7 linked regions of the Homo sapiens genome follow. The protein of the gene in region 1 purifies or fractionates together with the protein of each later gene. This does not show direct contact. Each region holds a gene or a part of one and is shown on either strand. Other genes may lie near its edges.

Region 1 (3,996 bases):
GCCTTGTGCAGGAGGGACTGAATAGCACCGCGTTTCATGGATGGGAAATAGATCAGAGAGATGATGAAATTTCCCTAAGCCAACACTGCTAGGAAGTATCAGAGCTGCAATTCAAACCCAGGAAGCCAGATTCCAGAGTTCTAATGAGCCTCCCATGGAAGGGGGCAGATGGGCTAGGGGCAAAGGGAGTTGGATGAAGCTGATGGCACCAGCACATGCCCCTCAGCTGTGAGCCCCCTTGGGCAGGGCTTTGCAGAGACCAACCTCTGTGTATGCTGCACAAAGCAGGCGCTCAGTAAATTCCTGTTGGAGGAAGGGAAGAAGGAAAGGAGGGAGGGATAGAGAGGAGGGCAGGAAGGAGACAGGGAGGAAAGCACGGAGCTCTTAATAAAAAACAGACTAAAAGGTGGAGATACAGACCAGGAAAGGCAGGGAAGAGAGATTGCAGGGTCAGAGAGGAGGAGAGAGAAGTCTCTGCCAGAGAGCCTGAGAGAAAAGGGATGCAGGTCGGTCAGAGGATCCTGAGCAGGCCTGACATTTAAGTGTCACCAATTCAACTGTTGATGCCCAATGTCTGTTCTGATTTCAGTGCCCAGGCCATACCAGGTGACAAGTATCCTGACTAGCTACACGGACATCTTGGTGTGGATGTCATTCGCACAGATGTCTTAGCACCCCTGTCTTGGGGAAAGGAGGTGGGCACTCGGAGTCTTATGGGTTTTTTTTTTGTCAGACAGCAGGTGCTGGGCCCTGAGGGAGGGAGAGGGAGTGGCACCCACCGGTCTCAGGGCAGAAGCCATACTTCTTGTCGCGGTCGTAGTCCTCAGTGGTGCCGCACCAGCGGTAGCCATCCGTGCGGCCCTCAGTGGTGCAGCTGTCATAGGATGTGCCCTGGAAGCGGAATGGAAACTTGCAGGGCTGTCCTTCAGCGTTGCCGCCCATGGTGAACAGGGCTAAGGGTGGGGGAGAGAGGGAAGGATGTGAATGAGACATGCTTCCATGGGCACAGGGCTGGCTGGCTGCCCACCTGCCGGTTCACACCAGTGAAGTTGATGCATTGTTAAAATATTAAGAAAACATCTCTACTGGTTGGTAAGGAGCTGCTTCTCTGAGCTCCCAGAGAGAACCCCTGCTTCCCTGGTTATCCCAATCCCTCCCGTGGGACCTTGTGGACCACCCAACAACAAAATGATTGACACCTGGCACACAGCAAGGGCTTCTAGAACCCTGCCTCAGCCCCAAGGGCACTGTCCATTCTGCCTGGTCCACACCTGTACCATGCAAATTTCATGTAATAATGATGTATGACATGAATATATCAGTCATGGCAGGCAGGACCACGAGAATCTCTCTCCATTTGATAGGTGGAGAAATCAAGGCTAGGACAAAGATGGTTCTCAAACTGCTCATGGTCACAGAAATGAAAGAAGTGAATGAAGGTTGTAACTAAAAACTACAAAACACACTAATCTCAATCTCTCTTGCTTAGTCTGTCACTCTCATATATGTGTGTGTGCGTGCACACGCATACACAGAAAGCTTGCTTTACCTCCTGTCAACCCCAGGCCCCTTCCTGGATGGCCTTGTTGCAGTCTCTGTAGGAAGGAGAGAAAGAATGAAGAGGAGGAGGGAGGGAGAGGGAGGTGGTGCCTTCAGGTCCCTTTTACTAAACACTCTGGGCTCCTACTTTGACATCTTCAAGACAGGGGCCATAAATGGAGAGTTGGGGGAGGGAGTGGGGTTCAGAGCCTGGCCTGTCTGTCTTGGATTCTCCCCATCCTCCCCTCATCCACCCAAAGCTAAAAAATGGTGTCTCTGGAATTGCCAACCAGCAAAACCACAAGTCCATAACAAGGACCATCTGTGCACAACGGCGCCAGAGGTGACCTCACCAGCCCCCGTTAACTCCACCATGGCCGGAATGGAGCCCAGTCCCTGGCCTCCCACCACAGAACTCGAGGCCCTGTATCCTCACCACTCCCCTCTCTACCAAAAGACCTTGTCCTGCAATGCCAGAAACAATGGCACCTAGAGAAAAGGCAAGACTGAGTCCAGATACCTTAGTGGCCTCAGAGTTGAGAAAGGCAAAGCGTTAACTTCGACCAATGCCAGCCCCCTGCCTCTGACCTCTCATTTCTACCACCCAGGAAGCCCCTGTCTCCTCCCAAATTCCCCTGACAAGGATGGCAAGAATCAGACACTGACTCAGCCATCAGCAGGGGCTGAGTAACAACAATCTCTGCCTCGAGACCCAGACACGTGCGTGTTGTGCGTACTTGCATCTGGCTAAGCACAAAGTAAATGGCTAATGTCCAATGCAGGGAATAACCCTTCCCAAATTTATGAAATACAGCTGTTTCCACATCTAACTATCACCAAAGCTTTCTGTTCCTATCAGAGGGGTGACACAGGGAAGGGTTAACGCCACATGTAATCCCTACCGGGAAACGCAAGATACAAAAAATATTTTTATTTCAAAATGTCTGACTTATTAATGGTGAATGGCTTAAACTCTTACTTAATATAAAGTTTAGCTCTGGTAGTAAAAGCATAAACAGGAAGGGAATTAACTAGCTCTTTGTTTCTTTCATTCTGTCAAGATGGTTGGTGCTTAGTTTTCAGTTACAGTGGGGTTAGGGAGATTCACAGACATAAAATTACAGACAAAAAGACAGTCTTTAGTCTATGTAGACTATAGAGTCTTTGTGACATGGGAAAGAAGATAGTGTTAAAAATTTTTAGACTTTTTTCCATTTTCGCCAGGTTTTCTGGGCTTTCAATCTGCAGAATTATCAAATATGATGACTTCATAGAGTATGAAGTTACATTGTCTTTTTGTGATTTATGACTATTAAGTGTGTCAAGGATATTTTTAAAAAGGATTGAGTGTGTATGTCAATATCTGTACCCCATTTTAAAAGATTTCCCCCATGTGGCTTCAAAATCTCTGAAATGTTGCATCTCAGGCACTGACAAGCACACAAACACAAATACTGAGTCAAGCCTAAAGTCTTTATCAAGACACAGAGATGCAGACACAAGCTAGACAGGAGGCAGAAAAAGACAGTGCCCAAGAGAGGCAGATAGTATAGCCCCCGTGCCCAGACACACACACACACACACACACACACACACACACACACACACAGGCACACACACACACACACACACACGCATTAGCAGAGGCAGCATCAGGACCAAGGCAGGAGCAATAGCTGAAATTCCTCAGTTGGAGTACGCAAACCAGGTTGAGTCCAGCCCTGGTCTGAGTCCTGCCTCCCTATCACACTGCTAGGTTTCCAGCTACCAGCAAGCCTTTCCTCATGCCCTTGAAGTATCAATCTTGACTGAAGTGTAAAGACTGGTTCTAGAGAGAACCACTGGGCATTGTAATAGTTCTAAGTTCACTCCAATATATATTAGAAATAAATAATTAGCAAATCAAATCTGTGACTTCCTAAATGATTGCTAATGGTGAAACTTAAAAAAAATCAACTTGATTTAATTAGAGTACTACGTTCATCATGGTACTGGTGGGAGAGAAACAGCAATGGCTCAGATCAGGATGGGGGGGAACTGAGTGAAGGACGTTGGAGGGATGCTCATTAACTGGCAGTGGCAGCCAGTCCTGGAGAGTGTGGAGGGAAGAGCACACTGGGGAGCCCGGGAAGCTGGAGGCTTGGGGTGGAAAGTCTTGGGGACTAGAGTGGATGCTCACCTTCATGGGGACAGAAGCCGTACTTGCCATCCTTCTCAAAGTTGTAGGTGGTGGAGCACCAGAGGAAGCCATCGCTGCGGCCGGTATCAGTGCAGCTGTTGTACTCCTTGCCATTGAACAAGAAGGGGAACTTGCAGTACTCCCCATCGGCGTTCCCATACTTCACACGGACCACTAAAGAGTGACATGGAAGGGGGAGGTTGGACTTCTCCAGGCCTTCTTTGGAGACCAAGATTCTGACTCACCCAGATGTGTGACTTTCCTCCCCTCCCACCTCT
Region 2 (3,996 bases), on another chromosome or scaffold:
TACCCAGCCTGGGCTGGGGTTGGCCTGGGGTCCCTGTGCGGCTTCAGCTGCAGCCTCCCTGTTCTCTTGGAGGCTGCACGGCCTCCCTGACCCACTTTGTGGGCAGGAAAGAGACGGAGACAGACAGAGACAGAGAGAAACAGAAACAGGGAGAAACAGACACAGAGAGAGACAGAGACAGAGAGAGATAGAGACAGAGACAGAGAGAGACAGAGACAAAGAGTGACAGAGGGACCAAGACAGGCAGACAGAGACAAACAGAGACAGAGACAGAGACACAGAGAGAGACACAGAGAGACAGAGACGGGAACAGAGACAGGCAGACAGAGACAGAGAGAGACAGAGACAGAAACAGAGACAGAGGGACAGAGACAGGCAGAGAGAGACAGAGAGACAGAGACAGAGACAGACAAACAGAGACAGAGAGACAGAAACAGGGACAGAGACAGAAAGAGAGAGAGACAGAGGGAAACAGAGAGAGACAGAGACAGATAGAAAAAGACAGAGGCAGAGAGAAGCAGAGACAGAGAAACAAAGACAGTCAGAGACAGACAGAGACAGAGACAGAAACAGAGACAGAGAGACAGAGACAGAGGGGCAGAGACAGGCAGACAGAGAGACAGAGACAGAGACAGCGAAACAGAGACAGAAACATACAGAGACAGAGAGACAGAGAGAAGCAGAGACAGACAGAGGCAGAGAGACAGAGAGAAGCAGAGACAGGGACAGAGACAGAGACAGAAATAGAGAGATAGAGACAGAGGGACAGAGACAGAGAGATAGAGACAGAGAGGGAGACAGAGAGATAGAAGCAGAGAGAGAGAGACAAAGACAGAGGCAGAGAGACAGAGAGAGAAGCACAGACAGAGACAGACAGAGAGACAGGGACAGACAGAGACAGAGAGACCGGAAACAGAGGCAGAGAGACTGAGAGACTGAGAGAGACGGGGTGGTTTTCCCCACAGCATCAACACCAAGCAGGGCTAGGATCACTGAAACAGACTCATCAGACCCGAAGCATGCGCTTTCTCGGGGTTTTTCTGGACTGAGGGGTTTCCTCTCATCCCAGTGTCCAGCTGTGGGGACGCAGGGGCCGCAAGCCCCGGAGTGTCCAGAGGGGAACGTGGCCTCCCCACACCCAGCCCTTCACGAGGCCTCAGGATCCCAGTGGGGGTACCCGAGGCTGCCCTGTCCAGCCAGGCGGTGCGGGGGGTTTGGGGAGAGCCTCTCCCCGAGGTCGGTCTCAGAGGGCCACATGGCCGGTGTGGGCCGGACATTCCCTTTCCAATGGTTGTGCCCACTTCCCTCCAGAGTTGGTGCCAAGCTGGGACCTGGGGGACTTGGAGTCTCAGGAAGTCGTCCGCTGTCTGCAGGGGGTGCATGGGGGATGTGGCCACACACGTCAGAGTGCGGCCCCCTGTGGAAGCCACAGACAGACACGACTCCCCTAAATGAGCTCGCCCTTCTGGCCGAGATGCTCAGCGTCCCCAGCAGGCTGCCCGACTGCCCTGCGATACTGCCCTCCTTCCTGCTGCTCCCACTTTCCCTTTCGGGGGGTTGGATTTGGGGCATTCAGGGATCGCCCTGTTGTTTGCTCATCACACCCATTTCCTGCAAGAGCCACGGTGACCGAGCAGCCTTGAGTTGAGGCAGCTTGTGGGTAGACGCGGCGGGCATCTCGGAGGGGCACGCTCCCTGCCACCCTCAGCCTCCACTCACTGGTCAGGGGCTTTGCGCCCCAGGGCACCCCAGGAACCGAGCCTCCTTTGGGGTCATGGGTGCCTCTCCTGGGAGGGCGTGGATTTTCCAAAGCAGTTTAGAGAAATGAGACCCACAGGCGTTATTTCCCATGGTGAGGTTCTTTTCAGTAACCCCCACCGTATAGCCAGGATCAGCAAAGAGAGGCGGCTCCTCCCGGTGAGACAGGGACCAGCACCTCCCGGACAGGCTTGGGTCTCCCTCCAGTTCCCCCACCTAGTCTCGAGGTCTCACGCTGCCCTCTCCTGTCCAGGGGCTCCCACCTGAAGGAGAATAAGTACCTGATTGTGGTGACCGACGGGCACCCCCTGGAGGGCTACAAGGAACCCTGTGGGGGGCTGGAGGATGCTGTGAACGAGGCCAAGCACCTGGGCGTCAAAGTCTTCTCGGTGGCCATCACACCCGACCACCTGGTAGGCACCGGCCCCCCCCGGCAGATGCCCCCAACCACAGGGAGTGGCGGCTGCAAGGCCCCCGGCAGCTGGGACCGTCTTTTGGTCCTCGGGAGGGTGTGGGTTCTCCAGCCGGCCACCCTTGCCCCTGAGAGGCCAGCCCCTCCTGCTGAGGAGCCTGGAGCGCCCCAGCCCAGCCTCCCCTCTGGCCCTGTGGGAAGCGGCCCCGGCCGTCAGGGGTCCCAGCCCTGCTCAGCCCACCCTGAACACTGCCCCCAGGAGCCGCGTCTGAGCATCATCGCCACGGACCACACGTACCGGCGCAACTTCACGGCGGCTGACTGGGGCCAGAGCCGCGACGCAGAGGAGGCCATCAGCCAGACCATCGACACCATCGTGGACATGATCGTGAGGCCCCTGCCCAGGAGACGGGGAGGCCCGCGGCGGCCGCAGGTGGAAAGTAATTCTGCGTTTCCATTTCTCTTTCCAGAAAAATAACGTGGAGCAAGTGGTAAGAGCCCTCCCCACCACCCCCAGCCGTGAGTCTGCACACGTCCACCCACACGTCCACCTGTGTGTTCAGGACGCATGTCCCTATGCATATCCGCCCATGTGCCCGGGACACATGTCCCCTGCGTGTCTGCCCGTGTGCCCGGGATGTGTGTCCCCCTGCGTGTCCACCTGTGTGTCTGCCCATGTGCCTGGGACATGTGTCCGCCTGTGCGTCCATCCGTGTGTCCGTCTGCCCATGTGCCTGGGTCGCATGTCACCCTGTGTCCCAGCCGTATGTCCGTGGCTTTCCCACTGACTCGTCTCCATGCTTTCCCCCCACAGTGCTGCTCCTTCGAATGCCAGGTGAGTGTGCCCCCCGACCCCTGACCCCGCGCCCTGCACCCTGGGAACCTGAGTCTGGGGTCCTGGCTGACCGTCCCCTCTGCCTTGCAGCCTGCAAGAGGACCTCCGGGGCTCCGGGGCGACCCCGGCTTTGAGGTGAGTGGTGACTCCTGCTCCTCCCATGTGTTGTGGGGCCTGGGAGTGGGGGTGGCAGGACCAAAGCCTCCTGGGCACCCAAGTCCACCATGAGGATCCAGAGGGGACGGCGGGGGTCCAGATGGAGGGGACGGCGGGGGTCCAGATGGAGGGGACGGCGGGAGTCCAGATGGAGGGGATGGCGGGGTCCAGATGGAGGGGACGGCGGGGTCCAGATGGAGGGGACGGCGGGGTCCAGATGGAGGGGATGGCGGGGTCCAGATGGAGGGGACGGCGGGGTCCAGATGGAGGGGACGGCGGGGTCCAGATGGAGGGGACGTCGGGGCTCCAGATGGAGGGGACGGCGGGAGTCCAGATGGAGGGGACGGCGGGGTCCAGATGGAGGGGACGGCGGGGTCCAGATGGAGGGGACGGCGGGGTCCAGATGGAGGGGACGTCGGGGCTCCAGATGGAGGGGACGGCGGGAGTCCAGATGGAGGGGACGGCGTGGTCCAGATGGAGGGGACGGCGGGGTCCAGATGGAGGGGACGTCGGGGCTCCAGATGGAGGGGACGGCGGGGGTCCAGATGGAGGGGACGGCGGGGTCCAGATGGAGGGGACGGCGGGGTCCAGATGGAGGGGACGGCGGGGTCCAGATGGAGGGGACGGCGGGGTCCAGATGGAGGGGACGGCGGGGTCCAGATGGAGGGGACGGCGGGAGTCCAGATGGAGGGGACGGCGTGGTCCAGATGGAGGGGACGGCGGGGTCCAGATGGAGGGGACGTCGGGGCTCCAGATGGAGGGGACGGCGGGGTCCAGATGGAGGGGATGTCGGGGTCCAGATGGAAGGGACGGCGGGGTCCAGCAGGCAGGCTCC
Region 3 (3,996 bases), on another chromosome or scaffold:
CCGGACGGGGCGGCTGGCCGACCCCCCCCCGCCTCCCTCCCGGACCGGGCGGCTGGCCGGGCAGAGGGGCTCCTCACTTTCCAGTAGGGGCGGCCGGGCAGAGGCGCCCCTCACCTCCCGGACGGGGCGGCTGGCCGGGCGGGGGGCTGATCCCCCCACCTCCCTCCCGGACGGGGCGGCTGGCCGGGCGGGGGGCTGACCCCCCCCACCTCCCTCCCGGACGGGGCGGCTGGCCGGACGGGGGGCTGACCCCCCCTCCCCCCTCCCGGACGGGGCGGCTGGCCGGGCGGGGGGCTGACCCCCCCACCTCCCTCCCGGATGGGGCGGCTGGCCAGGCGGGGGGCTGATCCCCCCTCCCCCCTCCCGGACGGGGCGGCTGGCCGGGCGGGGGGCTGACCCCCCACCTCCCTCCCGGACTGGGCGGCTGGCCGGGCGGGGGGCTGACCCCCCCACCTCCCTCCCGGACGGGGCGGCTGGCCGGGCAGAGGGGTCCTCACTTCCCAGTAGGGGCGGCCGGGCAGAGGCGCCCCTCACCTCCCGGACGGGGCGGCCGGCCGGGCGGGGGGCTGACCCCCCCACCTCCCTCCCGGACGGGGCGGCTGGCCGACCCCCCCCCCCCCCGCCTCCCTCCCGGACGGGGCGGCTGGCCGGGCAGAGGGGCTCCTCACTTCCCAGTAGGGGCGGCCGGGCAGAGGAGCCCCTCACCTCCCGGACGGGGCGGCTGGCCGGGCGGGGGGCTGACCCCCCCCACCTCCCTCCCGGACGGGGTGGCTGCCGGGCGGAGACGCTCCTCACTTCCCAGACGGGGTGGTTGCCGGACGGAGGGGCTCCTCACTTCTCAGACGGGGCGGTTGCCAGGCAGAGGGTTTCCTCACTTCTCAGACGGAGCGGCCGGGCAGAGACGCTCCTCATCTCCCAGACAGGGTCGCGGCCGGGCAGAGGCGCTCCTCACATCCCAGACAGGGCGGTGGGGCAGAGGTGCTCCCCACATCTCAGACGATGGGCGGCCGCGCAGAGATGCTCCTCACTTCCTAGATGGGATGGCGGCGGGGAAGAGGCGCTCCTCACTTTCCAGACTGGGCAGCCAGGCAGAGGGGCTCCTCATATCCCAGACGATGGGCGGCCAGGCAGAGACGCTCCTCACTTCCCAGACGGGGTGGCGGCCGGGCAGAGGCTGCAATCTGGGCTCTTTGGGAGGCCAAGGCAGGCGGCTGGGAGGTGGTTGTAGCGAGCCGAGATCACGCCACTGCACTCCAGCCTGGGCACCATTGAGCACTGAGTGAACGAGACTCCATCTGCAATCCCAGCACCTCGGGAGGCCGAGGCTGGCGGATCACTCGCGGTTAGGAGCTGGAGACCAGCCCGGCCAACACAGCGAAACCCCGTCTCCACCAAAAAAAAACGAAAACCAGTCAGGCGTGGCGGCGCGCGCCTGCAATCGCAGGCACTCGGCAGGCTGAGGCAGGAGAATCAGGCAGGGAGGTTGCAGTGAGCCGAGATGGCAGCAGTACCGTCCAGCTTTGGCTCGGCATCAGAGGGAGACCGTGGAGGGAGAGGGAGGGGGAGGGGGAGGGGGAGAGGGAGAGGGAGAGGGAGACTCAGCAGCAATTGGATTTCTATGTTTACCTTGGCTACTCTAAAAATGAGAGCTAAAGTTATAGATGCTACAGTTAAGATAGCAAGCATATTGGTATGGACTTGCTTTGAAATGAGCATATACATTTTAAAAAGTTATTTATTTTTATACCCAGAAATTCTAACTTTATACTTTTTGATCTAACACACTTGAGAATTCAAAATACTTCCTCTGTCAATCTGCTGTTTGTCTTTGTCTCAAGCGTTACAGTTTTGACCTTTCTGTTTCTTCAGGACTCCTCTGATTTTCTTCAGGCCAAGCCATTTGTAGTTTGCAAGTGACTTTGTAGGTTTAGCAACTCTACTCTCTCACCCAAGAGTTACCTATCCAGTTATGGCAAAGACTGTTTCTTTCATTAAACAAAGTTATTAATCAGTCAGGAGAGAGACTTTTCACATTCTGAATTTACAAACTGTGCTTTCTTAAGTTAAATGGCATGTTAGGAGTATTTCTGATATGAAATTGGAAACTTGCAGACACCAGAAGGCATTGCTTATCTTTGTAAATACACATGTTCCAATTAAAATAGGTACTAAAATATTTTGGTGGCACCTCAAAACTCCCAATTTAGATTTAATTTAGATTAAAACACTTACTCTTTTTAATAAAGTTATAAAATTAATTATTAAAATTGCCTATTGAAGATTAAAGGCAGTGGAACGTTTATTTTCCTTACAAAACAATTTTGTCTTCAATAAGTGTGATTGTGTTAATCAATTATGCTATTAAAAATACAACTGCCGTGTTAAATCTGACTCATTTGTCATGACAGTTTTTATAATTATAGAAATTATACCTAGCTGCTTATATAGCCATAATCCTGCAATAAGTATAAATAATTATCTCTATTAATTCAGTTTGCAGTTACTCTCTATTAAATCCCGAGTTAAATGGCAATTTGGGGACCTTCATTTAAAATCCTACTAAATCTCTGTTGTTCCATCTGACTGCCAAAGCCCCACATATGCACCTCCTACTGTTGATTCCAGAAACCAATTTATGAATAAAATAGTTTTTAAACCACAAGTATTTAAAAGGTCCATTTAAGCTTGAGGTTTGAGGCTCTCAAGAAAAAAGGAAAGAGAGTGTACACATTGGGTAGAGGATGCTGACGAAAGAGATAGAACAAATCTTGGTGTCTGGGTATTTCAGTTTGGAAAACAGTATATAAATTTCAGTTTGAAAAAGTCTGCTTGACACCTTCTATGTAAGCCCAAAATACTAGAGTATACTGAGTAACGATTAACAACTTGTATTTCCATAGGTGTGGATGAGGTCACCATTGTCAACATTTTGACCAACCGCAGCAATGCACAGAGACAGGATATTGCCTTCGCCTACCAGAGAAGGACCAAAAAGGTACAGGCAATTCCAGGGATGGAGGGCATTTCTTGTTGAATTTTTGTTTCCTCAGACATTGCTTTTTCTTTTCATGAATTGTGGCTCTCATGCGCAAAAGACTTGTGGGACCCTTGGATATCTAAGATTTTCTTCTTAAATCCTTGTAAGAGTCACTGCACATGTGTGTGTGCGTGTGTGCACGCGCGCGTGCACCTCAGGTCATCAGGCATTAGGTTCTCATAAGGAGTGTACAACATAGATCCCTCGCGTGTGCAGTTCACAGTAGGGTTCGCGCTTCTGTGAGAATCTCATGCCACCGTTGATCTGAGAGGAGGCAGAGCGCAGATGGTCACGCTCGCTTTAGAGTGCTTGGGAGCTCCTGTGTAAGGACAGTACCCTCCCCCAACCCAGGCTACCTGGAGGGAGAGCTTCTGGGAATAGAAAGTTAGGAATAGGGAACAACAACAATAACAACAACAGGCACCATTTATTGAGTGCTTACTTTGGGCCAGGCACTGTGCTCAGTTTTGTACATGTAGCAACTCATTTCATCTTTATGACTTCTGCTGGTTCTTGATAAGATGTTTCTAATTTAATTTTAGGATACTAGCCTCCACTGAGTGTTGATCCTAACAAGCTCCTCTCATTTTAAAAATATACACTTGAATTCTTAAGCTTTTTGCAACGAGTGGGCTTAGTTGTTAGTTCATTTGGTCTGCAAAGCTATCTTCAACATGCCATGCTCCTACTATTTAAAGGGTCTTTGTGTGCTTTTTCCCTTTGCTTGTCCACTAGTGGTTAAGAAACAACCAGTGCGTGTTCGTCCTTTATTTTGTCAGTTGTAGGAAATTTTATTTTTAAGGACGTGCTGCTTTATTTTTAACTTCTTGCTATTAAAAGCTTTTGATTTATTCTTGGACAGTGCAGTAAGTGTGGCTTCCTGCAGCTCCCGTTTGACTTATGGCTTTCACTTGTAGCCACAGTGGAGGTGAGCTGGAAGGATTCTAGAAGAGATATTT
Region 4 (3,996 bases), about 27 Mb from region 1:
AGCTTTGTCTCCTCTTTGGTAATTTTCTTTTGGGAAACCAGTACCCCTACTTCTCTCAATCCACTTGGTTTAAATAGGATCCCAGGCTTGGCCAACAAGAGGACTGTTAACCACCCCAGCCTCGGTGACGGATTCCGCAGAGGGCACGTGATGCATGTTCATCTAGTCAGACGCTATCCTGGAAACACGGCCCCAGGGTCCAAGGTGCCAATGTTGCTAAATGGAAAGGTAATCATCTGGAGTTCTCACGTCCTTAAGAATGATGTTAACACAAAGGAAAGTAAAGCTCAGAAGAGAAGGGCAGTGTGGGAGCCCTGGATCCAGCTTTACCTGACTGAAGCTCACCTGGGACTTTCAGGAAGAAAGCCAAGACAGCCCCTTTAGGGGGCTTACGGTTTGTTTGTTTGTTTGTTTGTTTGTTTTCGAGACAGAGTCTCACTCTGTCACCCAGGCTGGAGTGCAGTGGTGCGATCTCGGCTCACTGCAACCTCCGCCTACTGGGTTCACGCCATTCTCCTGCCTCGGCCTCCTGAGTAGCTGGGACTACAGGCACCTGCCACCACGCCCAGCTAATTTTTTTTTGTATTTTTAGTAGAGACGGGATTTCACTGTGTTAGCCAGGGTGGTCTCAATCTCCTGACCTTGTGATCCACCCACCTTGGCCTCCCAAAGTGCTGGAATTACAGGTGTGAGCCACCGCACCCGGCCTCTAGGGGGCTTACAGTTTTACAATGGGCTTCTGTCACCTGCACGCAAGAATTCTGTCTAGCACATGGCTTCCAGGTGAGGGCAGCCAGTCTCCTGCAGGCTCAGCAGAATGAGAGCTGCCCCAAAAAAGGGGTATTTGGAGCCAGGCGCATGGCTCACACCCGTAAGCCCAGCACTTTAGGAGGCCAAGGCAAGAGGATTGCTTGAGGCCAGGAGTTCAAAACCAACCTGGGCAACATACAAAGACCCCATCTCTACAAAAAAAAAAAATTTTGTGTGTGCAATGGCACGATCTCTGCTCACTGCAACCTCTGCCTCCCGGGTTCAAGCGATTCTCCTGCCTCAGCCTCCCGAGTAGCTGAGATTACAGGCATGCGTCACCATGCCTGGCTAATTATGTATTTTTAGTAGAGACAGGGTTTCACCATGTTGGTCAAGCTGGCCTAGAACTCCTGACCTCAGGTGATCCGCCCACCTCAGCCTCCCAAAGTGCTGGGATTATAGGCGTGAGCCATCATGCCTGGCAAAATTTTTTTTTTTTTTTTTTGAGAAGGAGTCTCGCACTGTCGCCCAGGCTAGAGTGCAGTGGCACAATCTCAGCTTGCTGCAACCTCCGCCTCCTGGGTTCAAGTGATTCTCCTACCTCAGCCCCCCGAGTAGCTGGGATTACAGGCATGCACCACCACGCCCAGCTAATTTTTGTATTTTTAGTAGAGACAGGGTTTCACCATGTTGGCCAGGCTGGTCTTGAATTCCTGACCTCAAGTGATCCACCTGCCTCAGCCTCCCAAAATGCTGGGATACAGGTGTTAGCCACCACACCCAGCCTACAAAAAGAAAAAGTTTTTTTAATTAGCCAGGCATGGTGGCGGGCACCTATAGTCCCAGCTACTTGGGAGGCTGAGGTGGGAGGATCACTTGAGCTCAGGCGTTCCAGGCTACAGTGAGCTATGACTGCACCACTGCACTGCAGCCTGGGTGACACAACAAGACCCTGTCTCTTAAAAGAAAAATGGGCGGTGGGAAGGGGTCCAAAGGTAGGAAACAGGGATCAGTGAGAACGTCGCTGACCTACCCCCAGGCCAAGACCAGACTCACCCTCAGAGCCCAGTGCCAGTCTCCAGCCATATCCTTCACTTTGGAGCCTGCAATGTAGCCCAGACCACTGTGGGAGGGAGAGAGGGGAAAAAGGGGGGACAGCCAGTCAGTCCAGTCCCCCACACCAGGCCCTTCTGCCTTCCCCCAGGCCCCAGGCCCACTCACCTGCCCACCGGAATGGCAAAGTAGAAGATGCTGAGCATCCGGCTCCGCTGGTCGGCCACAAAGAGGTCGGCAATGAGAGTGGGCGCGATGGTGGAATAACTGGCCTCCCCGACCCCCACCAGGCCCCGGGTCAGGAGGAGCAGCCAGAAATGCTGGGGAGAGAGACCGGGGAGAGGTGGCACCCCAGCCTGCAACCAGCCTCCGGGCTACCTCACCAGCCCGCTCCCAAGAGGCAGCAGGGATGGCGGGAGATGCCTGGGTTTTAGAATCACACAGACCTGAGCTTGCATCCTGGCTCCACCACTTACTAGCTGCGATTTGGGGAAAATAACTTAACCTCTCTGAGCCTCAGTTTCCTCATCTGCAAAAGGAGGATAACAACAACTTTTCACAGAGCTATTGCAAGGACTAGACAATAAAAGGTCTAAATAAGACAACCCCTGCTTGCCTGGTAGGGGAAAGTTTTTTAATTTTTTTTTTTTAATGAATAAGTGACCTTAGATGGGAGTTTATGTGTCTACCAAAGGCACCTGAAGCTAAGGACGGGTACAGTCACCCAAGGAAAGTACGTAGGTCCTGGGGCTGAGGACAGAGTTCTGGGGTGGAGTGAGAACAGACAGAGGAGGCTTCAAAGGAACAAAGAAGCAACAGCCAGGGAGGCAGGAGGAAAGCCAGAAGAGTGTGGCATCGCAAAGGTAGGAGAGAGTTTCAGGAAGGAAGAGTGGGTCAACAGTGCCAGAGGCTCCTAGCATGAACAGGACCAGGAAGTTGGAGCTGTGTTTAGCAACTAGGAGGCCACTGTTAACTTTGGCAAGAGCAGGGTCCGTGGAGTGGTGGGAGCAGAAGTCAGTGGCAGCGCTCGAGGGGTGAGCAGGCGTGAGGAAGTGCAGGCAGAGTGATGGCATCTCCCCGGCTGCTCTTTTACCCACACTGGCACCACGCTCTAGGGGCCCTTCAGGAAGTCTGATCAGGAATGAGAGGAGGGAGAGAGGGCAGGCCAGGTAGGGTTTGGAGTGTTTAGGTATGGAGTAGAAGGAGTCAGTGGTCAGGGGAAGAGGGGATAATGGACAGAGAATGCTCTGGAAGAAAAGGGGAGGATGGGGTGGGGCAGGTTAACTCAGGCAAGGAGGGGTATAAAATGGCATGGACCAGGGAAACTGCAGGAGTCCCTGAGGCCCAGTCTGCCATAGCTCCAAGGAGCAGCAGCAGAGACTGACAGGGAGGGGGTGTGGGCAGAAACAGGAGCCAGCTTGGGGCCTCACCTCTCCGGGGATGAAGGATGACCCCAGTGTCACCAGGGACCAGAAGGCAATGCCCCCGCACATGAGATACTTCCGATTGTACCTGTCACCCAGGTAGCCAAACACAGGTGCCAACACCATGTAACTGGAGATGAACACTAGGGGGAAGCAGAGAGTCACAGCTCAGCCCAGGTACCCCTACCTCCCACTCCCACCCCAGCTGGAACCACTAAAGCACAGGAGATGCCTGCCTTCTCCTTACAGAATTCACAACACCCCCACATCCCAGCCTGAAGCCCATCAGAGCTTCCTGTCAGGCGGATGGTCCAGCTCCATCTTGAACACCTTTCCAGATTTCCCATTGTATAATGGATGGTCCCACTACTTGTCAATTCCTTCCACCTAGCCAAAACAAGCTCCAAACTCCATGCATACCATGGCTCACAATGCCCCTGTCCAATCTAGGCCCTGCCTACCTCTCCACACTCATGGCCAGCCTTTTTCCCTTCCTCTGTCTGCATCCCAATGGCCCAATTGTCAAGGCCAATACCACTAGGGGTTTAGGCACCTACTGCCTCCTCTATCAAGGACATTCTCTCCTCTCCCCCTGAAACTTCACAGAGCATAGTTCCTTCAGGTTCCAGCTCAGATACTTGCCCAGGGCCAAGGGTGAAGCATGCTGCCCAGGTGAGCACACATCCAGTACCTGACTCTCACATTTACTTTTTTCTCTTTTTTTTTTTTTTTTTTTTTAAACGAAGTCTCGCTCTGTTGTCAGGTTGGA
Region 5 (3,996 bases), on another chromosome or scaffold:
AACTCTGTCTTTTTAAGAGATACAGCTGTGAAAATGTATGACCTTTTTTTTTAATGCCATGGGTATTGCATAAATAGGAATAATAATAAATAGGAATGTGTAATAATTAGGACACAGTAATAAATTAGGACAGAGAGGTACTATTAATATTATATTTATTAGAATTTTATTACAAGTTGTCTGTAATATATAGCTAGCAGACTCAGTGAATTGGCAAATAGTATTTTGTTTTAATAAGATTAAAATCAGCAGATGTCACCCTGGATAAGTACGTTAGAATGAATTTTTTCACAGATCTCAGAATTGTCGTTGTTAGAATGGAGAAAAGAATAATGTTTTATTCAGAAGAAATAATGAATTTTCCTCTGTTCTTCAATTCAGGAAATGTTTATTGAATTTCATATGTTCTTGGTACCGCTGAAGCCCAGATGATAAAGTAGTGACCTGGACAGAGAAAGTGCTTCTGTGCTGTAGATCCAGTCTCTGTGACTGAACAGATGGGAACAGGACTGAAAATGTTAGCTGTTACACATTTCTTTCTAAAACAGCAGAAATGATAAGAGATTACTGTGTCCATATTGTGGAGACAACACTTGATAAACCAGCTATCCTTTCTTGGCATGGAGGGCAGGCTGATTTTTGTGTAGTCATCTAGATTTCTTGTCTGCTTAATAACAAGGTTGTGAACAAAGGTGAACTCATCCATTCAGGTTGTTTCCTAAAGATGTTTAAATTACTAGTTAAAAAATATCAATTGAACCAATTATTCTGATTATAAAAGTAACAGTATTGTTTCAGTAAATTTTTCATGTTTTAATGGATTAGTTGGGTGATAGCCTTTGATTTTATTATTCCGTGTATTTAACATTGCTTTCTAGTGATTTAAGACAAGTCCTGTTTTCTTAAATTTTTATTAGCAGAGACTACTTTTAAGTACTGGCTTAAACAGAAATAATTTTAAGTTAAGAATATCCATTTTCAAATTGAGTATGATCAAGGAGAGTTATGTACGGCTAATAATTAGAAGTACTAATATCTAATATTGTTTTCCTTCATGCAGGTACCATACATTATCTGTATCATAAAGTTTCCATTTGAAGGTTATTTATTTTATATATACACCCTTTTTTAGGTCAGCTTATTTCGGATCAAGTGGCAGAAATCGTATCTAAATACGACCCCAATGTTTACAGCATCAAGTATAATAACCAATTAGCAACTCGGACTGCACAAGCTATTTTTGATGACAGCTATTTGGGTAGGTAAAACCAAAATTTACTCATTTTTGGAACTGTGGTACATATATCTTATATCTGAGTATGGTCTTTTAAGTAGAAAAATATTTTATGTGAAATAGATTAGGATTTTTTGAAACATACAGAATATACAATTTCAAATTGTTAATGAGTACTTTGGTTATGTTACGTTTCAGTAATTGAAATTGAAGACAGTGATTATTTGTGCAGTGATAATAATAATAGCTAGCCTTTAAGATATGCTTACTGTGTTCTGGGCATTGTTCAAGGTGACTTGGTTTGTATTCACTCATTTAATCCTCACAAGTCAAGCATACTGTATTATTCTCATTTTGTAGGTGAAAACACTGAGGCACTGAGACGCAAAATAACTTGCCCAAAGTCACTCGCTTGTAACTTGCTGTTCAGAGATTCAAATGGAGACAGTCTAACTCCTGAAGTTTTCTTCATGATGTTAAATAAAAGTTTTGGTCTTTAGGACTTATTAACATGTGTTCTCTCTTTCAATTTCTTTATGATATATTAAAACAAGTCATATATGACAGAAATAGTACTTGCTGATTGAGAGAATTTATTTGTTCTTTATGATGAGTTGTAAATTTGGTGTTTTTAACAGACTCCTTTGTAAAGTTAATAAGACAATTGTAGTTTTGTAATAAAAATAGACTATTTGAGTATTTAACTCAGTTTCATTTAAAATTCATATGTCATATATATATGAATCTGTTATGACTAGGGGACAAAATATTGCATAAGTAAAGGAGTTTCTTGAAAATATTTTCAAGGAATGCTTACTCAGCAAGCCTGCTGAAGATAACGTCCTTGTCCTGATGGTTCTCCCCTTTGGTTTCCTGTTTAGGTTATTCTGTGGCTGTCGGAGATTTCAATGGTGATGGCATAGATGGTATGAAGTACTTGAACTATATCTAATCTTTAAAAAAATTAGATTAAGTATTTGAAACATGTGGCATTGAAAATTTTAAGCAGTTTGAGTGGCTGGGTGCTGTGGCTGCAGCCTGTAATCTCAGCACTTTGGGAGGCTGAGGCGGGTGGATCCCTTGAGCCCTGGAGTTCAAGAACAGTCTGGACAACATGGCAAAACCCTGCCTCTAGAAAAAACACAAAAATTAGCCGGGCGCGGTGATGCACACCAGTGTCTAGCTTCTCAGGAGGCTGAGGTGGGAGGATCTCCAGAGCCCAGGGAGGTTGAGGCTGCTGTGAGTTGTGATTGCGCCACTGCACTCCCGCCCGGGCGACAGAGCCGAGACCCTGTCTCAAAAAAAAAAAAAAAAAAGGAAAAGAAAATAAAATTTTAAGCAATTTTAAACCATTGTTATGGAATATAACAGAAGAAATGAGGAAGATGTTAGCACACTGGTGAGAGTCCAGGCTAGGTCTGTGCTGAACTTCCTCTAGTGGCTGCTGAAATTGAGACAGCTACACTTGGCTTCAGTGCCTTTCCTTTCTGCTTCTTTTTAGCCCCCAACACTGTTAGTGATTTCCTTAGCATTTTCCTCCTTGTCTTCAGCAAATTCATTCCTCTGGGAGGAAGAATTAGTGTCTTCTTTCTTTAGGCATCCTTTGTTACCTTCTGGGCCATCTCTGTACGGTTATTACCCCATCCTCTCATTGTCCATCCATCTTCCTTCAGAGCTCCGTTTAGGAATCACAGTCTTTACCTGATTTTGATCACATTTTTGTGCCACAGCCACTTCTACCCCACTTCAGTTTGCTCTGTATTATTTTTCATTACTGTACTACTAAACTAAATGTAGTTTTTCTTCATTCTTAGGTTACTTTATCTTGTCTATTCTTGTTTAACAATATTACAAATGACTTGAGGGCTTATTTGCATATGTTTGAGAGCCCTCCAGAATTTGTATTTTGTAAATTTTGATTTTATAGTTTAAAAATGCTGGGCTATTTATTACGGAGTACCAATTTTTCTAAATTGATTGTTTGTTTTGAACTGAAGTAGTAAAACTTAAAGCTTGCTGACATAGTCACTTCTGGTCTGCAACTTCCAGTGTTGTCCTAAAAAATGAATAATTTGTTTGTTTGTTTGTTTCAGACTTTGTTTCAGGAGTTCCAAGAGCAGCAAGGACTTTGGGAATGGTAGGACAGTTAAAAGGTATTTTTTAAAAAATCTCTAAGTTATCTTCTATTTTACCAGATTTCACATACTTCTATTTTTCCTTCACAGGTTTATATTTATGATGGGAAGAACATGTCCTCCTTATACAATTTTACTGGCGAGCAGGTATGCTTCCAAAATATGATCGTCCTCTCCCACTATAAAAGCAGTATGTACTCATTGGAGAAAATTTGCGAAATAAAACTGTAAAAATGAACTATAATCTCATCAAATAGATAATTCTTCCAACTCTTACCATTTTGGTCAAACTATTATCATTTCTCTTTTGAGCGTGTGTGTGTGTGTGTGTGTGTGTGTGTGTGTGTGTGTGTAGTATATAAACAAAAATTGGTTTACTCTGTATTTTTCATTTTGTCTTGCCTTTTTCACTCAATATTTTATCATCAGAGTTTCTAATTTCTTAAAACTTTCCTTGGCAGTATCAGAATGGTTTAATGATTCCATAATATTCAATATTCTAGATATAAGATGGGCTTTAAATATTTCATCTTTGTTTTAACCAAAGTAATTTGGATATTTTGGCTTGTTTTTGTTTCCTTTTTTTTTTTTTTTTAGGAAATGCAAAATCACATGCATACAAAACCA
Region 6 (3,996 bases), on another chromosome or scaffold:
AAGAAATTAGGAAAGACAAAATATGTTGTCAGGTTTTCTGTTTTTAACGTAAGACCCTTAAAGCTCATCAGGCTCAATCACTGAAACATGTAAGAATGGATAGAAAAAAATACCCTTTGTCTCTGATAAGATCTTTGAATTTAGTTAATGATATATATTATAGACTAATGATTTGCAGGAAATCTGTATCATAACAGCAAGACTTTCCAAAATATTTAGTTTGGTTGTATAATTCTTATGAGGAACTGAAAGGCTAACATTACAGTATTTGTGATTTCATGTTAGAATAGAACTTAGAAGATTTGGGGTTTTATTCCCCAATAGAGGCTTTTCCTAGAATTCTCACTGGATCCAATCTCTAAAGGCTAGGGAAGCTGTTTTCCATGACATCACTCTTGGACTACTTCTAGTCATAGTGTGGAATAAGCAGAGAAGCATTAAATTAAAGTCTTCTGATGAAAAATAGCATTCAAGCAGGGTTTTTTTTTTCTTATAAGGCTTCTTGTATTATAGGATGACGAAATGCTAAACATACCTGAAAAGTGAAGTAATTTGGTGCCAGTCTGGAGGCTGGAGGACCCAGGGCCCTCCTAATAGCTTAGTTAAATGGTCATTTGCAATTTGGTCCTGAGTTATAAAAATATTTTGATGACAAGAAAGAATTTCCAGTATTAAACAAATTAAAGTTAACTTACACAACGTCTCCTCCCATATTAAAGTGAGTTTTCAATTTGAGTAGTGTATTGAGAGTAAAGTGACCGCTAATAGAGCTTAAAAGTCTGTCTTTAAATTTGTCTTTTCTTTTATATTGGTATGTTGAGAAGTTGGCTGCTTTGAGATTGTCAAATTTACATTTTTTTACTTTATGGGTTACAGAAGTGAGAAATGTTATGACTCAGAAATTAATTCTGTTTTTATCCGTAGTAAGCCTTTGCATTCTCTTTTCGATATGCAACTGTGGCATTTTCTGCATAGGCATCAATTTTGGTAGGAGAACAGTTTGGGGATGAAGATAGTATGAAATCATTTAAATTTTTCATTGAGGGTAAGTATATTATATCAACCTCTGAGAATCTAGCTTTTGCATTGAATACCTTAAGCTTTTGTATGAATTTTCAAGCAGCTGTGGAAGGAATGTGAAAGCAATAAATTATTGCTTATGGCACAAACATAGAGGTTAATTTTGAAATGTCTTTTAATTGCCTATAATTTTGCCTTCACATCAGAATGGCAGCCTTATAACTGAAAAGGAAGCATTTAATTTCTTTGCCTTTAATTTCCTGTCCAGTTTTACCCCCACCAAACTTCTTTTTTTACTGGTCACTAGAGAGTTTGAAGTGTTCAAAAATTCTGTGATATAAATAGCAGTAATAGTCTTCCAGGGCAGAGGTAGGAAGAGGTTGAGGTTTGTGCGTGCACGTGTGTGTGTGTGTGTGTGTGTTGTCACTTATCTCTTACACTTTCAGTTGTTCTCAAGCCTGTGGTCTCAGGACTTCTTTGTACTTATTTGTACTCTTAAAAATTAGTGGGGGCCGGGCTTGGTGGCTCACACCTGTAATCCCAGCACTTTGAGAGGCCGAGGCGGGTGGATCGCTTGAGGCCAGGAGTTCGAGACCAGCCTGGGCAACATGGTGAAACTCCGTCTCTACTAAAAATAAAAAAATGAGCTGGGCGTGGTGGTGGGCTCCTGTAATCCCAGCTACTCAGGAGGCTGAGGCAGGAGAATCGCTTGAACCCCGGAGCAGAGGTTGCAGAGATCATGCCACTGTACTCCAGCCTGGGTGCAGAGTGAGACTGTCTCAAAAAATAAATAAACAAATAAAAATTAATTCTATTACATGGTAACCTAAATAACATTTTTTTATGAAAAATAACTTTTCTAAAACAGTTAAGAACTTGGTGAAAAGAGTGGCATTGTTTTAAATTTTTGCATATCTCTTTAATATCTGGCTTAATAAAAGCCAATGGGCTTCTCATCAGCTTCTGCATTCAGTCTGTTGCAATATCACATACCATGTGTAAACCTCTAGAAAACAGAATGAAAGTGAAAAAGACAAATAACTATTCTTTATTTATGTATTTATTTTGAGAAGGAGTCTTGCTCTGTCGCCCTGGCTGGAGGTGGCGCAATCTTGGCTCACTGCAACCTCTGCCTCCTGGGTTCAAGCAATTCTCGTGCCTCACCCTCCTGAGTAGCTGGAATCAGACGCACATGCCATCACCCCTGGCTAAGTTTTGTATTTTTTAGTAGAGATAGGGTTTCACCATATTGACCAGGCTGGTTTTGAACTCCTGAGCTCAAGTGATCAGCCCACCTCTACCTCCCAAGGTGCTAGGATCACGGATGTGAGCCACTGTGCCCGGCTGACCAATAACTTTAAAAAAATTATTTGGATAATAATTTTGACATTGGGAAGCCCCTTTAGTGGGGACTGGGATCTTTTAGGACAACTGGATTCACTTGTCCCCAGATCATGCTTTGAGAATCCCTATACTAATCATTCTTAGGCACAAAAATGTGAGGCTTTCTTTTATTTAGTCAGTACCAAGTTTATGAAACAAGACACGTTCTTCAGTATTTCTTTCCTGGTAGTATAAGTATGCCTTGTCATTTGGTCTAATTGGTTTCCCTCTTGAAAAAAAAAAAACCTACTATTTGAAATTCTGAAGGCCATGTATAAAGTGTTGATAAACCTATATATGAAAAGTAAGGATACAGAATTTTTGTACATTGAACATTTTGTCAGTAAATGTTTTTCCTCAAAGCCTCTTAAATTTTTCCTCCAGCACTCATTTAAAGAGTTCTTATTTAAGGTTTTTGTGTTTTACAATGATTCGTTTTTTTCTTTTGGGAGAGTGGGGCTACGCACTTCTTGTTGAGCACGCTACTGCTGCCGCGGCTGTCTCTGCCATTGCAAAGTAGTTCTTATAATAGTTTTCTTCCTTAAATTGATATAATTCTGTACTTAGATTTCTTTTTAGAGACAGGGCCTTGTTCTGTTGCCCAGACTGGAATGCAGTGGCTTCATCGTGGTTCACTGCAGCCTCGACATCCTCACCGCAAGCGATTTTCCTGCCTCAGCCTCCCAAGTAGCTGGGGCCACAGGAGCACGCCACCAAGCTCTGCTATTTAAAAAAATTTTTTTGTAGGGAAGAGGTCTGGCCACATTGCCCAGGCTGGTCTTGAACTGGATCAAGTGATCCTCGTGCCTTGCCTCCCAAAATGTTGGGATTACAGGCATGAGGCCGCTGTAACCAGTTAAAGAATTATGTACACAATTTTTTTTTTTTTTTTTTTTTTTTTTTGGGACATGGTCTCACTCTGTTGCCCAGGCTGAAGTTCAGTGGTGGATTATAGCTCATTGCAGCCTCGGCCTCCCGGGCTCAGTTTATCCTCTGACCTCAGCCTCCTGAGTAGCTGGGACTACAGTCACACACCACCACGTCTGACTAATTTTTATGTTTTTAGTAGAGATGGGGTTTTGCCACGTTGCCCATGCTGGCCTCGAACTCCCGAGCTCAAGCGATATGCCCATCTCGGCCTCCCAAAGTGGTGGGATTATAGACGTGAGCCACTGCGCCTGACTCTGATCTGTTATAAATCTGCATTATGATAAACCCTAGGGAGGCATGGGGTTGGTAGAGAGGGGAGACTGAGGGTTCTCACTTAGGTTAATTCATTTATTCACCACCCTAACTTGATAATAAGATGATGATGATTATTAGTAATGTATGGATGGAAACCAAGATAGGAAGTTAACAAAATTTCTGTAGGTCACACAGTAAGCACTCTGATTTCAGAGGTTTTGCTCTTTCCGACCACACTATTTTGTATTTTTTGCAAATAGAATCTAATTTTTTTTTTTTTTTTTTTGAGACAGGCTCTTAGTTTGTTGCCCAGGCTGGAGTACAATGGCGCCATCTCAGCTCACTGCAACCTCTGCCTCCTGGGCTCAAGCAATCTTCCTGCCTCAGTCTCCCAAGTAGCTGAGACTA
Region 7 (3,996 bases), on another chromosome or scaffold:
CTTCAGACAAATATCCTGTGGTTACGTAAAAGTCTGTTCTGAGGAAACATATTCTCAAGTATTTACAGATAAAGAGGTATTATGTATGTAAATTGCTCAAACTGTTCAGAAAAAAAAAAAGAGAATGCAAATTACCTACCAAAACTGGTTAAACTCACATTATAAAGTCATAATAAAACAATGAACCAAAATGTAGCCCATTTAGTGAAAATGATGCCTCAGACTACAGGGCTTCAGTCCTTTCAGTTTTGAAAAGGTAGCTTCAGTCTTTATCATTAGCTCTAGCTGATAGCATCAGAGGTCTAATCTATAAAAGGTAAATTAAATATCATAGAGTAGTGCTTAACTCTGATGGGGCAAAGGACTACAGAGTTTTGAGAGTAGCAACAATATTTTATTTCTTAAAAAAGTAAGTGAAGCAAGTATGATAAAATGTAAAGATATGATGAGGTGGTGTAATAGGTTCAAGCTTATTTGTATGTTACTTTCTGCATTTCTCTACATATGTAAAATGTTCTTCAATATTGTATTTCATTCACTGTACTGGCACATGTTTTCATGTTTTTGTATCTCTGAAATCAAGATGCATCTTAAGAATTGATAGAGCTGGGTGCGGTGGCTCACGCCTGTAATCCCAGCACTTTGGGAGGCCGAGACGGGCAGATCACGAGGTCAGGAGATTGAGACCATCCTGGCTAACATGGTGAAACCCCGTCTCTACTAAAAATACAAAAAATTAGCCAGGCGTGGTGGTGGGCGCCTGTAGTCCCAGCTACTGGGGAGGCTGAGGCAAGAGAATGGCATGAACCCGAGAGGCGGAGCTTGCAGTGAGCCAAGATCGCACCACTGCACTCCAGCCTGGGTGACAAAGCGAGACTCCATCTCAAAAAAAAAAAAAAAAAAGAATTGATAGCATGTCAGAGTCAGTTGGTAGCATCTTTTTCTTTCTTAACTGTATATAAAATAATGGTACATCTTACAATTGACAGCCTCTTAGACACAATGAAATATGGTAATTTCTTGTTAACAGTAAATTACTACAAACATCTTTTCCCACTCCCACCAAAAAAGAAAATTAAGAAAAAAATGAGCAAATATTTGGTAATATACTGACAGCAGCATTACTCTTTTCGAAGATCTCATGTGCCAGTAATTTTAGAGGGCCACAATACACTCCAGACTTTGCTGAGAAGTATTTCTGGATTGCGTGATAAGTCTTTCCACTGTTTGTGGGGCCTGAATGAAATATTATCTTCCGCTGCATGGCTCTAGCATCTGGGTACCTAAAACATGAGTAGGTAAACAGCTTAATCCATTAACCTCAAAATCCATCCTGGCAAAGACAGCAAATGAAACAAATTCCAAATGAAATATCCTCTTAATGTTCACAAGATCAAGTCTTTGAAAAACTAAACAATGGGTTTCATATCCACATTAAAATAATGACTGGTTTCCAAGAATAGCATTTACTAACTAGAGGACAGAAAAACCCAAATGCAAATTAATGTCTTGGAAATTTTTCCCATTGTACAAATCTCTTTTTCTCAGCGGTTACTAAAAATAAATTTAAGCTGCTATCAGTTCCATACTATGTTCACATCATTCCCACAGCTCTAAACACATAACTCTAAAGGCAAACATTCCCAGGCCCCTGAATTCCAACATACACAAATATAATAACAGAGTCTTCTACCTCTGGCCATAGTGGAATAACTGGCACTAGACTTGCCCTCCCACTAAAAACAAGTACAGGCGAGGCATGGTGGCTCACGCCTGTAATCCCAGCACTTTGGGAGGTCAAGGCAGGAGGATCACTTGAGGTCAGGAGCTCGAGACCAGCCTGGCCAACATGGTGAGCCCCCGTATCTATTAAAAATACAAAAATTAACCAGGTGTGGTAGCACACGCCTGTAATCCCAGCTACTCAGGAGGCTGAGGCAGGAGAATCACTTGAACCTGTGAGGTGCAGGTTGCAGTGAGCCGAGAACGCACCACTGCACTCCAGCCTGGGTGACAGAGTGAGACTCTCTCTCAAAAACAAACAAAAAAAATCAAGTACAAAGTGGGGCAAAATACATGCAATAAATGTGTGGGGACATGGGCCACAAGGCAGTGCAGGACTGCAATCCTTGAAAGAAAAGAACACTTGGGATGAGCCGTACTGCACCCCAGCAAGGCATAGGGAGGTGGAACCCAAGCAGAATATGACAGTCCCACTGAAGCGAGCAGCAGAGATTAAGTTCAGAGCTGCTTCAGCAGCTAAAATGTGAAGAATAGACTGTGGAAGAGAAGGGTGCATAGAAGGAGAGCCCAGAAGTCTGTGTGGGGGTTCCCTGCGAATTCCTGGCCAAGGGCTGGGCTAACCATGTACAAGGTAAGAATCGGCAGGGTCTAGGAATGAGCAGCCTACCAAGGGTTTCAGTGGAAAGTCTCAAAGACGTCTCAAGTGCTAGGTGATGTTGCAGTTCCAGCCATGGTGGAAAGAACTCATTAACACCCAGGCGCTCAGCTAAAACACCAGGAAGGCCATAGCTTACACTTAAGGACAACATCCTTAAGTCAGGGCTATTCTAGATCTGCCCTAATAAAACCTAAAACCACACTCAATCCGGATCAAGGTAAGATACCAGTGAATTGCCTAAAAGAGTTAACTGCCTCTTTTTATTTTAGGAAAACAACCTAATCCAGACTCCTTATAATTTGTTATCTAGAATACAATAAAAAAAAATAATGACCACGAATCATCCAAGATTAGAAACTGAAAATTTCAAATCCACAAATGGAGAAACTAACCAGTTAGGTGGTATTCTTAAGTCACTGATTTTACGTAGATCATCCTTACAGTCCAACACAGGAAATATTTGTTTGGCATGTCTCAAGAAAAATGGGAATAAATCATCCGCATGAGCTGGAAAATAAAACACTGTATTAACATGTGCAATCTACATAAAATTCGTAACTAAATTTAGTGAAATCTTTTTTCTTAACAAGCTAAGTTGCGGGGGCACTGCCAGGGTAAAAAGAAAAGTCCTCTCTGGGCACAGTAGCTCACGTCAACAATCCCACCACTTTGGAAAGCTGACCTGGAAGGATGGCTTGAGCCCAGGAGGTTGAGGCTACACACTGAGCTGAGACTGAGCCACTGCACTCCAGAGCCTGGGTGACAGAGTGAGACCGTGTCACAAAAAAAAAAAAAAAAAAAAAAAAAGGAAGAAAAGAAAAAAAAAAGTAGAAAAGTCCTGAGGTTACAGGCCTTATCCTTTTCTGGGATCCTGTTTTGTCTTACTTTTTCCTTTTAATTTATATTTTCAGGAAATTGGCTAGCAACCACCACGTCCTACTCCTTTAGTACAAACAGGCAAAGATTAGCATTGGCAAAAGTTAAATTAAAAATAAAGAACCTAGACATGTACATTACAGAGATGAAGGCGCAAACATTTTTTAAACTTCGAAAACCACAGACAGGCAAAAACATGTGTTTGTTCCTCAGCAAGAATTCTCCACATCTTAGTGGCTCTGAGAGGAGGCTGGGGCATGTCCCATTCTGCGTTGTATCCTCAGTGCTGGGCACAAGGTACAGGTCTAAGAGTCAAATACATAACCAAAGCCAAACTGCCTGTGGGAATGAAACTATGATATTTTGACTTTTTTTTTTTCTTTTATAGCAAGAACTTTGTCCTGATATGAGGGAGAAGGAAGCCAGTGGCAAAAACAGATGGAATCTGCTATGCACTAATTCCAACTTGTGTGAGAGCTTATTTCACTGGGCCCCAGTCTTCCTCCAGTCTAAGACATATGGGTGATGTAATAACCAGCTCAGGGACCCAATATAAAAGCAAACAACCTAGAAGTCATCCTGTGAAAGCACTGAATTATTTACAGAGGATGTTACCAGACCCACTCTAAACCAAATAAGCCCTTCTAGAGAAATGAGCATGAAGTATGAGAAGAAATAGAAGGTATGTTCAATAGGATTTTAAAAAGTCTCTAAACACT

The links.
Region 2: the proteins of MMP2 (region 1) and COL6A1 purify together in Homo sapiens (co-immunoprecipitation; 3 studies listed by BioGRID and IntAct, with this or other methods). This does not show direct contact.
Region 3: the proteins of MMP2 (region 1) and ANXA2 purify together in Homo sapiens (co-immunoprecipitation; one large-scale study listed by IntAct). This does not show direct contact.
Region 4: the proteins of MMP2 (region 1) and SPNS1 fractionate together in Homo sapiens (co-fractionation; one large-scale study listed by BioGRID). This does not show direct contact.
Region 5: the proteins of MMP2 (region 1) and ITGAV purify together in Homo sapiens (affinity purification with western blotting; 2 studies listed by BioGRID). This does not show direct contact.
Region 6: the proteins of MMP2 (region 1) and KLHL15 purify together in Homo sapiens (affinity purification with mass spectrometry; 2 studies listed by BioGRID and IntAct, with this or other methods). This does not show direct contact.
Region 7: the proteins of MMP2 (region 1) and SUPV3L1 fractionate together in Homo sapiens (co-fractionation; one large-scale study listed by BioGRID). This does not show direct contact.

The regions. Positions count from the first base shown.
Region 1 is NC_000016.10:55,485,500-55,489,495, reverse strand, and holds part of MMP2 (72 kDa type IV collagenase isoform 1 preproprotein), read right to left. Parts: intron 3,893-3,996; coding exon 3,719-3,892; intron 954-3,718; coding exon 780-953; intron 1-779.
Region 2 is NC_000021.9:45,984,515-45,988,510, forward strand, and holds part of COL6A1 (collagen alpha-1(VI) chain precursor), read left to right. Parts: intron 1-2,011; coding exon 2,012-2,171; intron 2,172-2,429; coding exon 2,430-2,558; intron 2,559-2,640; coding exon 2,641-2,661; intron 2,662-2,984; coding exon 2,985-3,005; intron 3,006-3,095; coding exon 3,096-3,140; intron 3,141-3,996. UniProt on the Homo sapiens protein: Collagen VI acts as a cell-binding protein.
Region 3 is NC_000015.10:60,363,428-60,367,423, reverse strand, and holds part of ANXA2 (annexin A2), read left to right. Parts: intron 1-2,900; coding exon 2,901-2,995; intron 2,996-3,996. UniProt on the Homo sapiens protein: Calcium-regulated membrane-binding protein whose affinity for calcium is greatly enhanced by anionic phospholipids. It binds two calcium ions with high affinity. May be involved in heat-stress response.
Region 4 is NC_000016.10:28,977,282-28,981,277, reverse strand, and holds part of SPNS1 (protein spinster homolog 1), read right to left. Parts: intron 3,371-3,996; coding exon 3,234-3,370; intron 2,124-3,233; coding exon 1,972-2,123; intron 1,874-1,971; coding exon 1,807-1,873; intron 1-1,806. UniProt on the Homo sapiens protein: Plays a critical role in the phospholipid salvage pathway from lysosomes to the cytosol.
Region 5 is NC_000002.12:186,634,950-186,638,945, forward strand, and holds part of ITGAV (integrin alpha-V isoform 1 preproprotein), read left to right. Parts: intron 1-1,132; coding exon 1,133-1,258; intron 1,259-2,115; coding exon 2,116-2,160; intron 2,161-3,327; coding exon 3,328-3,371; intron 3,372-3,459; coding exon 3,460-3,516; intron 3,517-3,996.
Region 6 is NC_000023.11:24,017,090-24,021,085, reverse strand, and holds part of KLHL15 (kelch-like protein 15), read left to right. Parts: intron 1-3,996. UniProt on the Homo sapiens protein: Substrate-specific adapter for CUL3 E3 ubiquitin-protein ligase complex.
Region 7 is NC_000010.11:69,186,554-69,190,549, reverse strand, and holds part of SUPV3L1 (ATP-dependent RNA helicase SUPV3L1, mitochondrial), read right to left. Parts: intron 3,157-3,996; coding exon of another isoform or gene 3,084-3,156; intron 2,909-3,083; coding exon 2,794-2,908; intron 1,284-2,793; coding exon 1,115-1,283; intron 1-1,114. UniProt on the Homo sapiens protein: Major helicase player in mitochondrial RNA metabolism. Component of the mitochondrial degradosome (mtEXO) complex, that degrades 3' overhang double-stranded RNA with a 3'-to-5' directionality in an ATP-dependent manner.